Homo sapiens: one gene and its partners. The protein of the gene in region 2 purifies or fractionates together with the protein of the main gene of each other region. This does not show direct contact. Each region holds a gene or a part of one and is shown on either strand. Other genes may lie near its edges. The genes, in order: SLC35F2, KDSR and SLC19A2.

Region 1 (3,750 bases), on a different chromosome or scaffold from region 2:
TCCCGGGTTCAAGTGGTTCTCCTGCCTTAGCCTCCCAAGTAGCTGGGATTACAGGCACACACCAAAACGCCGGGCTAATTTTTGTAGTTTTAGTAGAGACGGGATTTCGCCATGTTGGTCAGGCTGGTCTCGAACTCCTGACCTCAGGAGTAATCCGCCCGCTTCGGTCTCCCAAAGCACTGGGATTACAGGCGTCAGCCACCGCGCCCGGCCTAGGAAGGTTTCTTAATTGTCATTACTTTCCAGGAGCACAGGGCTCAGGTAGAATTCAACGTTGTCAATATGCAGGGTTAAATGAGTTGTTTACTTTACAAAAGTGACATCTTAAATGTGCTTCTAATGTCCTCTTGTTTCATAATATGCTTGTATTATAATACTTAATTAGTCTCTACGGATGACCACGTTCTTAGTTTCAAAGGTTTTTTTGAGGTTCCTGCAGCTGCTAAACTTGGGGTTCCTGAAGTAATATTTCATTTTCGAAAGCTGTTTTTTTTCTTAGACTCCTCTTACAGAATTGCCAGCTCGTCTGCACAGCCTGTCTATTTGAACCTACGTTTATTTTGACCCACCCCAACCCCCAAAGCAGGTGGCCAGGAAAAAATAAAAGGTCCCAACACCTTTTCTTTTGTTTTCTGGATCTCCTCCTTTCCGGAAGCAGGGGGTCAGTGACAGGAACTTTTCGACCCCAGCTTAGTGTCTCTTAATCCCTCTTTAGCCCGTGGAAGCCTCGGAAGGCGTGGCCAGGGCAGGGCATCCAAGCCGAGCGCCGGGGGTTGGCACCGTCTCTCTCCCTGGCACGGCGGAGACAACTGAATACTGAAAGACAAAACCAACACACCGCGAGGAATGAGCCACGCCTCCATCCACGCCACAAAGGCACGTTTCCAAGATCTTTTTAGGATCTTACCCATGTTTTGCAGGGAAAAGCGACACAGACCTGAAGCGCCTTCAGGTTTTTTTTTTTTTTTTTTTTTTTTTTAAGACGACGTCTCCCTCTGTTGCCCAGGCTGGAGTGCAAAGGCGCGATCTTGGCTCACAACCGCCGCCTCCTGGGTTCAAGCGATTCTCCTGCCTCAGCCTCTCGAGTAGCTGGGACTACAGGCACCCGTCACCACGCCCGGCTAATTTTTGTATTTTTAGTAGAGACGGGGTTTCACCATATTTCCCAGTCTGGTCTCGAACTCCTGACCTCAGGTGATCCACCCGTCTCGGCCTCCCAAAGCGTTGGGATTACAGGTGTGAGCCAACGCGCCCTGCCAGCCTTCAGTTATTTTAATGAAGCGATTTTGTACAAATCAGCCAGAGGGAGGGAGAGTGGGAGGGAAGAGGAGGGGTCAGCCAGTCCTTCCAGTTAGGAGAGTCCCGGCTCACTCACTGCTTCTAACTCACTGCTCACTCACCGCTTCTTAGCTTAGGAATCACCTACAATAACCTCGTGTCACTGTATCTTGTGATTTCAAACAAGGAACCCTAAAAACCTGAAGGCACACTGGGTGCCGCTCAACAATAAGGCTCGGCTGCCAAGACGAAAAAAAAATTGCCCTTTCTCCTCCTGCCACCCTGGAGGTGCCAGGTTGTAATCTGCAAATGTATTGTCTGGCCCTTAGGGCTTGACAGTTAATGATTGGTCGCTGAAGGAGCCGAGCGGAGGAGCGAGAGGGACGCGAGCAAGCGAGCGAGGGAGGGAGCGCAGGGCCAGAGCGGAGCCCCAGCCGGCCGCACAGGCACCGCCTCCCGTCTTCCGGGACCCGGCACTTCGGGGGTTTTGGGCGCCGGAGACGCGCAAGGGCGCCGATGGAGGCAGACTCGCCAGCGGGCCCCGGCGCCCCAGAGCCCCTCGCGGAGGGAGCGGCGGCCGAGTTCTCCAGCCTGCTGCGCAGGATAAAAGGCAAACTCTTCACCTGGTGAGTGGAAGGGGCGTGCTGCAGCTCCGCTGGGGCGTGGGGGCGGCTGCGGGCCCTGCGCGCACGTGGACAAGGAGCACACTCTCTGAGGCCCCCAGCAGGGAGGCAGAGGTGGCGGCCGCACGGACTTCGGTTCGGGGCTCAACACGCACACCAGGTATGGTGCGCTTCACCTGGCGTCGGGAAGCACTTGGTGCGTCTCCCTCGGCTCCCGTTTCGAAATCGTGGCGATGTATTTTGGAGGATTTGGGGGGAAACCCACCCTGTGGCACTATTAGGTCGGTCCTCTGGGGCGTTCCGCGGTGGAGGGACGAGGTCCCCGGGGATGCTGTGAAGGAGGAGTGCCCACCTCGGGCTGGGCAGGTGGGTGAGCGCCACTTCCTGGCGCCGGCGCCCTCATTCCATCTGCTGCCGAGCCAGCCAGACTGGGCGCGGTGATTCAAGAGTTGACCGAAGTGAGAAATCCTGGTTAAGTTTTGTGCTGCTGCCGGGTGGGAGACCAGAGCCGGCTCTCTCTTCCTGGGCCTGAGCGAGGTGATATAGCCACCCCCAGGGCTGGGGTCCAGGGAAGCCTGTTTGTGGTATCACTATGCTCTGTGCGAAGTAGGGACAAATGTTTTTAAGGAGTGGGCAGCGACTCTAGAAAGCGTTTCTGTGGTTGCTGGAGGACTTGCACTCTGGAAATGAGAGAACCCAGGACCTAAATAGTGAAAGACATTTATTGGGCACTCGCTCTGTGTCAGGTACTGTGCATAACAATTTATATGGATAATATCAGCTAATCCTCACCACTTTAGGAGATGGTACTATTGTTATATCCACTTTGCCGCTGGAGAAACAAAGAAGGCTAAGCAATTTGCCCAAGGCCACAAGATGATCTTTAAGGGGTGATGCGTTCAAGCCGTAGTCTAAACAGCGTTGGCCACTGACAACTCATGAAACAGATATTTGATTTTTTTTTCATATTAACAAAGCGAATTTCCCTTTAACGATTGTGAAAGATAGTCCTGAAAAGCCATACCATTTTAAAAACGAGATCGATAAAGGTGTAAGCATTTTTTATCATATAAATAGTTTGAAATTGATGCATGTGTTTAAAGGGGAAAGTTGGCCGAAAACCACCTTGTAGCATCCAGTTGTGTATGTCCTGATACATTTGTTAAAAGTTCTCAGCTGGGAGGCAATTCAGTGTAATGGCTAAGGGCACTCACATTCTGGACTCAAATCCTGGCTGGGTGACCTTGGACAAGTCAGTTCTCTGTGCTCCAGTTCCCTCCCTTCCCTCCCTCTCTCCCTCTCTCCTTCCTTCCTTCCCTCTCTCTCCTTCCTTCCTTCCTTCCCTCTCTCCTTCCTTCGTTCCCTCTCTCCTTCCTTCCGTCCTTCCTTCCACAAGTCAGTTATCTGTACTCCAGTTCCCTCCCTCCCTCCCTCCCTCCTTCTTTGTTCCTTCCTTCCGTCCGTGTCCGTCCGTCTTGGACAAGTCACTTAACTTCTCTGTGCTCCAGTCTCCCTCCCTCCCTTCCTTCCTCCCTTCCTTCCTCCCTTCCTTCTGCTGGGTGACCTTGGACAAATCAGTTCTCTGTGCTCCAGTTCCCTCCCTCCGCCCCTCCCTTCCTTCCTGCCTTCCTTCCTTCCTGGACAAGTCACTTCTCTGTGCTTCAGTCTCCCTCCCTCCCTTCCTTCTTGGACAAGTCACTTAACTTCTCTGTGCTCCAGTCTCCTTCCCTCTTTTCCCTCCCTCCCTCCCTCCCTTCCTTCCTTCCCTCCCTCCCTTCCTTCCTTCCTGCCTTCCTTCCTTCCTTCCTGGACAAGTCACTTCTCTGTGCTCCGGTCTCCCTCTCTCCCT
Region 2 (3,750 bases):
CCACCACTGAAGAGATTTATTTGGTCGGTAATCAGCCAGTTATCAGCAGATTACTGTAAAAATATAGCTGTTGTTGGCCGGGCGCGATGGCTCGCGCCTGTAATCCCAGCACTTTCGGAGGCTGAGGTGGGTGATTTTCTGCTTTTTTCCTGCAATTTTACTACCGTAACTAGATAGAAAACACTAGTATATAAAATTGTTTTAAAAATGAAACAATTGTTATAAGTTTGTTCTTAATTATGTATGGGCAGACAGTTTAACCATCAGCTCCCTCTCCCAACAATACCACAGTCAACTCCTAACAAATCTCAAGAACAATTACACTTTTCACTCTTCTTATGACATTAAAAAAGAAGACAGATGGTGACACCATGTGAACTATTCATGTCATTCTCACATTACTTAGAGTGTGAAATAATAATCCTGCGTATTAAAGCGGGATGGTAAAAATAAATTCTTCTTGGTCCACCTGAACAGACACAGCATTTATTATCTCACCTATGACCTGCCGCGGGATGGGGCTGGAAGGACTGGAGTCAAGGCTCAGTGAAACTGTCTTACAAATAAGGAATTCCAATTTTCATTCTGCGTTTAGCTTTAGTTTTTGCAAAGTTATGCTCTATAAACTCAAGCTCTGAAAGGATCCAAGGTTTAAAGCCACGCTTTTGAGGCAGCAGTTCTCTTGCGGATGTAAAACTTTCAGAATTTAGAGTGTCAAGTTTTGCCTTTCTCTTATTTATTTTTTGTAATGAATCCACACTCTTTCCCCATTAGGAACAGGAGGTGTTGGAAAAAGCTAATAGCTTTACAAAGGAGAAATTAAACAGATACATTTTCTCATTCACAAACCCTTGTACAGATTTAAAGCATACTAAGAAAAACGACCATCTTATTTTATACCAGCTCAGCGGGGAGGCTCGGATCTCCGGTGCAGAGATAGGACAGGAAGAGGTGTGCGGCCAATTTTGTAACCAACCCTCCTTACTCCTAACTCCTCGCCTCACTGTGCCTCGGGTTTGGGAGATCCAAACGAGAATGCTCGTGAGAAAGCCACTGCAAACGGGAAAGTGCTGGGCGCAGGCAAGGAGGCATTCTCTCTGTTTAAGAAAGGTGCCACATTTGCAGAACAGGGATCGCTGAATATGCGAGCTTCCGCCAAGAAATAAATCACACCTATCCACCTCTCCTTCATTCCTCGCACACAAGCCTTGTCGTTTAGCTCATCCTTCCCACTAGAAAACAGCAAAGGATTGCATTGGAGCAGCAATCAGCAGATGCCACGCTGAGCTCAGAGACAAGCAGTGTAGACGGGACAGGCGTCCCAATACCGCTAAGCCACCACCGCCAGCCCGCTGGGTTCTGAGCAGTTTCCCCAGGTGAGTCACTTCCTGGAATCCTCTGGCAGCGGCTCTTCCCGTCACTCGCACAGGCCATCTTCCAGTTCCGAGCTGCCTCGGCGGGTCCCGGCGGCTGGGACCCCACTTCCCCGCTGTCTGCCCCCGCCCGGGGCCGCGCGCCGCACCCTGCACACCACCGACCGCTGTGTCCTTGGCAAAGTTTCTCAGCCTCTCTGTGCCTCAGTTGACTCATCGGAAAAACTGAGGACAAAACATCCACATCCCAGGGATGTTGCATGGATTCACGAGCAGCCACAGAACCCCTGGGGCCCCGGGAACCCTGCGGCCGGCGGGGTCCCCCGTCGCACGCTCTCCGGCCCTAGGAGGAGCCCGAGGCTGCGGAGGGCGGGTCCGCGAGGCCGGGTGCCGGGGCCGGGGGAAAAGCGCCGGGGTGGACGGCGGCAGGTGACCTTCCCCATTTGGCCATGCCTTCCTGGGGACCGCGGCCTGGAAAAAGGGACGTAGGCTACGCGGCCTCGGCGGCGGAAAGGCCGCGCGGGCCGGTAAGTCGGGGGGCAGCAACAGGAGGCCACTCACCACCACATGCGCCCCGGGCAGGGCGAGGGGCTTGGGGCTGATGAGCGGAGACACCATGTACAGCAGCAGCACGAAGGCCACGAGGAAGGCGGCAGCCAGCAGCAGCATCGCTCCGCGGGGCCAGGGGCCCGGAGCGGCCGGGCGGGGGCCGCCGGGCAAGGCGCGCAGGGCTGGGCTGCGGCGAGGCGAGAATCACGCGCGGCGGGCGGGCGCCTGGAGTGTTTGGGTTTGCGGGCCGGGGCGGGCCGCGGCGGAGGGGAAGAGGAGGAGCCGGCGCGCGCGCCACCCAGGCGGGGCGGTGCTTCCAGGGGGCGAGTAGGCCGCCACCGCCACCGCCACCGCCACCACTGCCAGAATCGCCTCTCGGGGGTCGCCGGGTGTCTCCCACTCCCCCGGCCTCGGGACGGGGCCCGCAGTCCGCAGCCTCTCCCGTGGAAACCGGGCCTCCCGTCCCTGTGCGTCGCGAGCGGGCTCCGGACAGCGCCAGATGCGAGCGCGCCGGGAAGGGCTGCGAAGACTCGCTCTTCGGGAGCTCGAATGGCTTCTTAGGACCCCGCAGGGCGGGTTTCCAGGCCTGCCACGGCCTCCAGTGTGGGCGTGACGAGCGCTCCTCCCTGGAGTTCAGCCCTCGGCTTGGGACTGCCCGCTGGGTTGCTCGGAGGCCCCGGAGCATCGGAAAGGGCGGCTGGAGGCTCCCGGAGCGGGCTCAGCCTGGGAGCCCAGCGACTACGCTCTGAAATCCCGGGCTCCATTCCATATTTTTTGGCGTTTTTAGAAGATGGTCACGGCCCACTTTCGCTTTTCAGAGGACCGGAAAGCCTTAACAGGGAGTTTTGAGGAATCACTAAGGTAATTCAATTTCATTGAGTTCAGAGTTCATCTTTACCAAGCAGGTTCAAAACAAATAAATAACGCAAACAACTCAGCTTTATTAAGGTCTCATTCACGTACTATACCATACAATTCCCGATTTAACGTGCGTAATAGGCCGGGCGAGGTAGCTCGCGCCTGTAATCCCCGACCTTTGGGAGGCTGAGGCGGGCGGATCTCTTCAGGTCTGGAGTTCGAGACCAGCCTGGCCATGATGGTGAAACCCCCGTCTCTACTAAAAATACAAAAAATCACCCGGGCATGGTGGCGTATGCTTGTAATCCCAGCTACCCTGGAGGCTGAGGCAGGAGAATCGCTTGAACCCGGGAGGCAGAGATTGCGGTGAGATCGCGCCACTGCACTCCAGCCTGGGTGACAGATCAAGACTCCGTCTCAAAAATAAATAAATAAATAAAGCTTATAATAAATTGTCTTTAATATAGTCACAGTTGTAGACCCATCACTACCATAAATTTTAGAACATTTTTGTCACAACCCCCCAAAATCCTATACTCATTGGCAGTCACGACCCATTTCCTCCCAAGCCCCGCCCAAGCCTAAGCAATCCCTCATGTTTCTGTCTCTATAATCTTGCCTATTCGGGATATTTCACATAAATGGAATCATATAATATGTAGCCTTTTTCATCCTATCTTTCACTTACTGTAATGTTTTCAAGGTTCATCCATGATATGAAGTACTACATGTTAATACTTCATTTATTTTTATTGCCAAATAATATCCCATTGTATGACTATACGACATTTTAATTTTCCATTCATCAATTGAGGAATATTTAGGTTGTTTCCACTTTTTGACTATTAGAATTATGCTAACTGTAAATATTCATTTACCGGTTTTTGTGTGGGCATTATGTTTCATTTCTCTTGGGTACATGCCTAGTAGGGGAGTTGCTACATCTTACGGCAACTCTATGTTTAACTAT
Region 3 (3,750 bases), on a different chromosome or scaffold from region 2:
AAACAACTGGGATATCTAAAACTTTCAAGGATGCTGGAAGGATTATAAGAAAAGAAAGTATATTCCTGGAAGAATGGAACTATTAAAAGGATTCACAAGTTTCTATTAGAAATCCTACCATAAACTGATAAGAAAGCCTTACTTTTCTCATCTAGAAAATGAAAATGATAACAATAAAACCTATCCACAAAAGATTATACAGAGTTACACTAGATAATGTATATATTTATTATAGAGGGGCTCAATTAGTGTTATTTTTATTGCATAGCTTAAAAAGTCATGGCATACATAAAATAATGCCCAGTATAATGCATTTGAGAACTTTAGATCTATTACATAATAATGAATTCCACACACAGAGGTTAATAACTACTCAATCTATTATCTGGCCATGCCAAAAAGAAAAGATGGCAGGTCCTGTTTATAAAATCAGCACCTCGTGCTATAATCTGCAGGCTTCCTTCTATGCTGTTTTCTAGGCTTCAAATGTTAAGCTTATATGAATCACACTTTATAAAGTAGCATTTGACATATTACCTTTTATGTTTCTTGTTAAATTACATCTACAAACAAAGGTTTATTTCTATTACATCAAAACTCTGAGCTGCTCATAGTTAATCATGCATGCTCTAATTTAATAAGTGGCCTTCACTGTGTTCCATGGAGCTTTAAGAGTTTCATGTGGGATGAATAACAGGCTCAAGTATGTAAAATTATCAGACCTGCATTCCTGTTTCAATCAGAAAGGCTCAATTTTTATTTACTTATCATAACGGGCATCTAGTTTCAGATTTCATTTGAACATAAGATTTTGACGCTGTTTTATAAATTTAAAAATCTTTAACAATTACTTCCCTCTATCAGGGAATGGAAGTTTCTACTGTAGTGGTGGTTTTTGAGTCAACTAGATATGGGTGGAAATTTTATTTATTTATTTATTTTTTTGAGACAGAGTCTCTGTTGCCCAGGCTAGAGTACAGTGGCACTATCTCAGCCCACTGCAACCTCTGCCTCCCGGGTTAAAGCAACTCTCCTGCCTCAGCCTCCCAAGTAGCTGGGATTACAGGCATGCACCACCACGCCCAGCTAGTTTTTGTATTTTTTTTTTTTTTTTAGCAGACATCGTGTTTCACTATGTTGGCAAGGCTCGTCTCGAACTCCTGACCTCAAGTGATCTGCCTGCCTTGCCCACCCAAAGTGCTGGGATTACAGGTGTGAGTCACCATGCCCAGCCTGAGTTGGAAAGTTTTAAAGTGCCACTTCCTATGTGCCTTTGCGCAAGTCAGTTAACTAAATTTAGTTTCCTCTTCTGTAAAATGAGCAAATATCTACATTATTGAGTTTTAATAAGAATCAAATAACATACTGACTCTAAAGTTCTTAGCACAGTATCTGATACCCAGGTCAAAATAAACAGGAGGTGTGATGATGATGATGATGAAGATGACCAGGGGTGATTAATTCAAAGAGAAAAGGAAAGATTGCTCTATTTACAACCTCACAAATACATGACTATCTACCATAAAAGTACAGAGCTGTTCCGGATTATTCACGTGTAATGATAATGATAATAGTAATAATAGCAATTACCATTTATTGGAAACCTACTATGTAAACTCATTTGAAAGCTTTAAATACTCAAAATAACTGTATAAGGTAGATATGTACATAAGGAAACTAAATCTCACAGAATTAAGTAACTTGCCCAAGTATTAGAACTAGGGTTTGGACTTCACTTTCTTAAAAACTCACAATGAATGAAGCGAATAGATTTTCGTTCATTTTGGTTCTCAGGGTTTATTGTAGTTTTTTATTTTTATGGGTTTTGGTGAGGGAGGTAGGTGGTAACTCACTACACCCTGCTGCTAGAAATGACATTATTTAATACCAAAGTGGAAGCATTAATTTCACTGTTGTCATTGTTTAGAGACCTTAGACATGCAGACACAGAAAGAACACTTACTAGTAGTAAAAGATATCAAACTACAAATAAAAGCATGGCTATATTAAGAGAATCATTTACTAGGTATTAATTACATGTCAGAACCTGTGCTAAAGAAGTGGTTTAATTTATGTCATTTCTAATAGATGAAGAACTCAAAATAAATCAGTTTCACCAATCAGCCAACTACATAATGAATCCAGCTCTGCTTGTAAAAGAAAGTCACCAGCTTTGGTTCTTCTTTCTGCAAGATCAGCACCCTTTGCCCCAATGCAATAGACTCTCTTTAAAAATAACTCACAAATACTCTAAGGTAACTTGTAGAATGAGCTATCACTTAGACTCCTCTTACTTCATTTTCTCTTTCTATAAAAATCAAGATAAAACCACCTACCTACCTACTCTTCAATAATTACCACAATTATAATTTATGGTTTAATTATAGGTCTTGTCAACTTAAAATAGCTCTGTGATCCCTAATATCCATATTCTGAATTTTCTTCATGCTTGCCAAAGAAAAACAGCAGCATTTTAGGGCCAGTCAGTGCCAATACCAAGCAGCACTGCCCATCTGCTATGGTATCAGTAGCAGAGCCTAGGATATCAGGGAACTGACTTGAATCCTAATTCTGAAAACAGTGTAACTGACATGATGGTTCTGACATTGTTACCCCAGTTAAAAGACTTCACCGAGAAAGGTTTAGAAAGAACTGGATCTCATACACACTTTTAAATTATGTTCAAGAGTATATTTGTACAATTCTGCATAAGTTGCTAATCTCTGATCCTAATCCTTATCTCTAAAAGGACAGTCTTGATGAAATCTAATCTCTTTTTAAAATGCTCTGCTTTTTCTATGACTTGTGATTAGAGTCATTTCTAACTCTAAAATTCTACAATTCTTCAGTATATAAAATACTGACACACTGTGTATCTATAAACAAGTATTTCAAGTTGATCTAGAACAGTTTTTAAAACTATAGGTCATCACCCATAAGTTGGCAATAAAATTGATTTAGAGGACAGTGAACTGAATTTAAAAAAAATAAAAGAATGTATCAGAATAAAACACTGTTGTAAAACTTGTTTCTGTTATATATAAAATATATACATACCTATGTATGTACAGGTTTTCTATGTAAAATGTTTTCTATGTTTCTTACTTATATTCAAAAAAGTTTGAAACTGTCTATAAAAATCTTTAGAACTATGGTCAATATGTTAATATCTAAAATATATATTTATACACATATTATCTGTATATACGTTAATTTTAGCTAAAGCCACTGTAACACATTCAAAACAGATAAAGAAGTGTCTTTATTTTTTTTCCACTTCATAAAATCTATGAAATGATTACACACCTCCTTCCCTCCCCCATCAACCCTCTGTTGACTCTCTAATATCACCTAACAAACTATGAAAAAAATCAGCATTTCATTGCCACTTAATCCTTGGTCATTCTGACAAAAAGTGCTCACAGGTGCCCTGGTAATCAAGGTGAGTTTCATGATGAGGGTTGCCCAGGCTCTACAAGTCTACCCAGGCTCTCTGGGATGATAACCTAAATTTCAAGTAGTAATTTGAGAGCTGAAGAACGGGGATAGAGAAAAGAGAGTAATTTTCAATGAGGACATTAGATGCCACATTTAAACAATTCAGTTAACTCTCAGTAGAGAATGAAAGACTTTACTCATAATGGTTCTTTATTATCAGCCAGCCTACAAAGCTTATGGAGCTCAGTCCGACTGAGGCCACCTACAAAGCTGGAATGTTAATAGGCTTATTTCCAAACATGTCCCAGGAAA

Evidence for each region.
Region 1: the proteins of KDSR (region 2) and SLC35F2 purify together in Homo sapiens (affinity purification with mass spectrometry; 2 studies listed by BioGRID and IntAct, with this or other methods). This does not show direct contact.
Region 3: the proteins of KDSR (region 2) and SLC19A2 purify together in Homo sapiens (affinity purification with mass spectrometry; 2 studies listed by BioGRID and IntAct, with this or other methods). This does not show direct contact.

Annotation. Positions count from the first base shown.
Region 1 is NC_000011.10:107,856,812-107,860,561, reverse strand, and holds the start of SLC35F2 (solute carrier family 35 member F2), read left to right. Parts: upstream 1-1,774; 5' UTR 1,775-1,794; coding exon 1,795-1,904; intron 1,905-1,982; exon of another isoform or gene 1,983-2,061; intron 2,062-3,750.
Region 2 is NC_000018.10:63,365,077-63,368,826, forward strand, and holds the start of KDSR (3-ketodihydrosphingosine reductase), read right to left. Parts: upstream 2,131-3,750; 5' UTR 2,043-2,130; coding exon 1,935-2,042; intron 1,925-1,934; exon of another isoform or gene 1,174-1,924; intron 54-1,173; exon of another isoform or gene 1-53.
Region 3 is NC_000001.11:169,472,312-169,476,061, forward strand, and holds part of SLC19A2 (thiamine transporter 1), read right to left. Parts: intron 1-3,750. UniProt on the Homo sapiens protein: High-affinity transporter for the intake of thiamine. Mediates H(+)-dependent pyridoxine transport.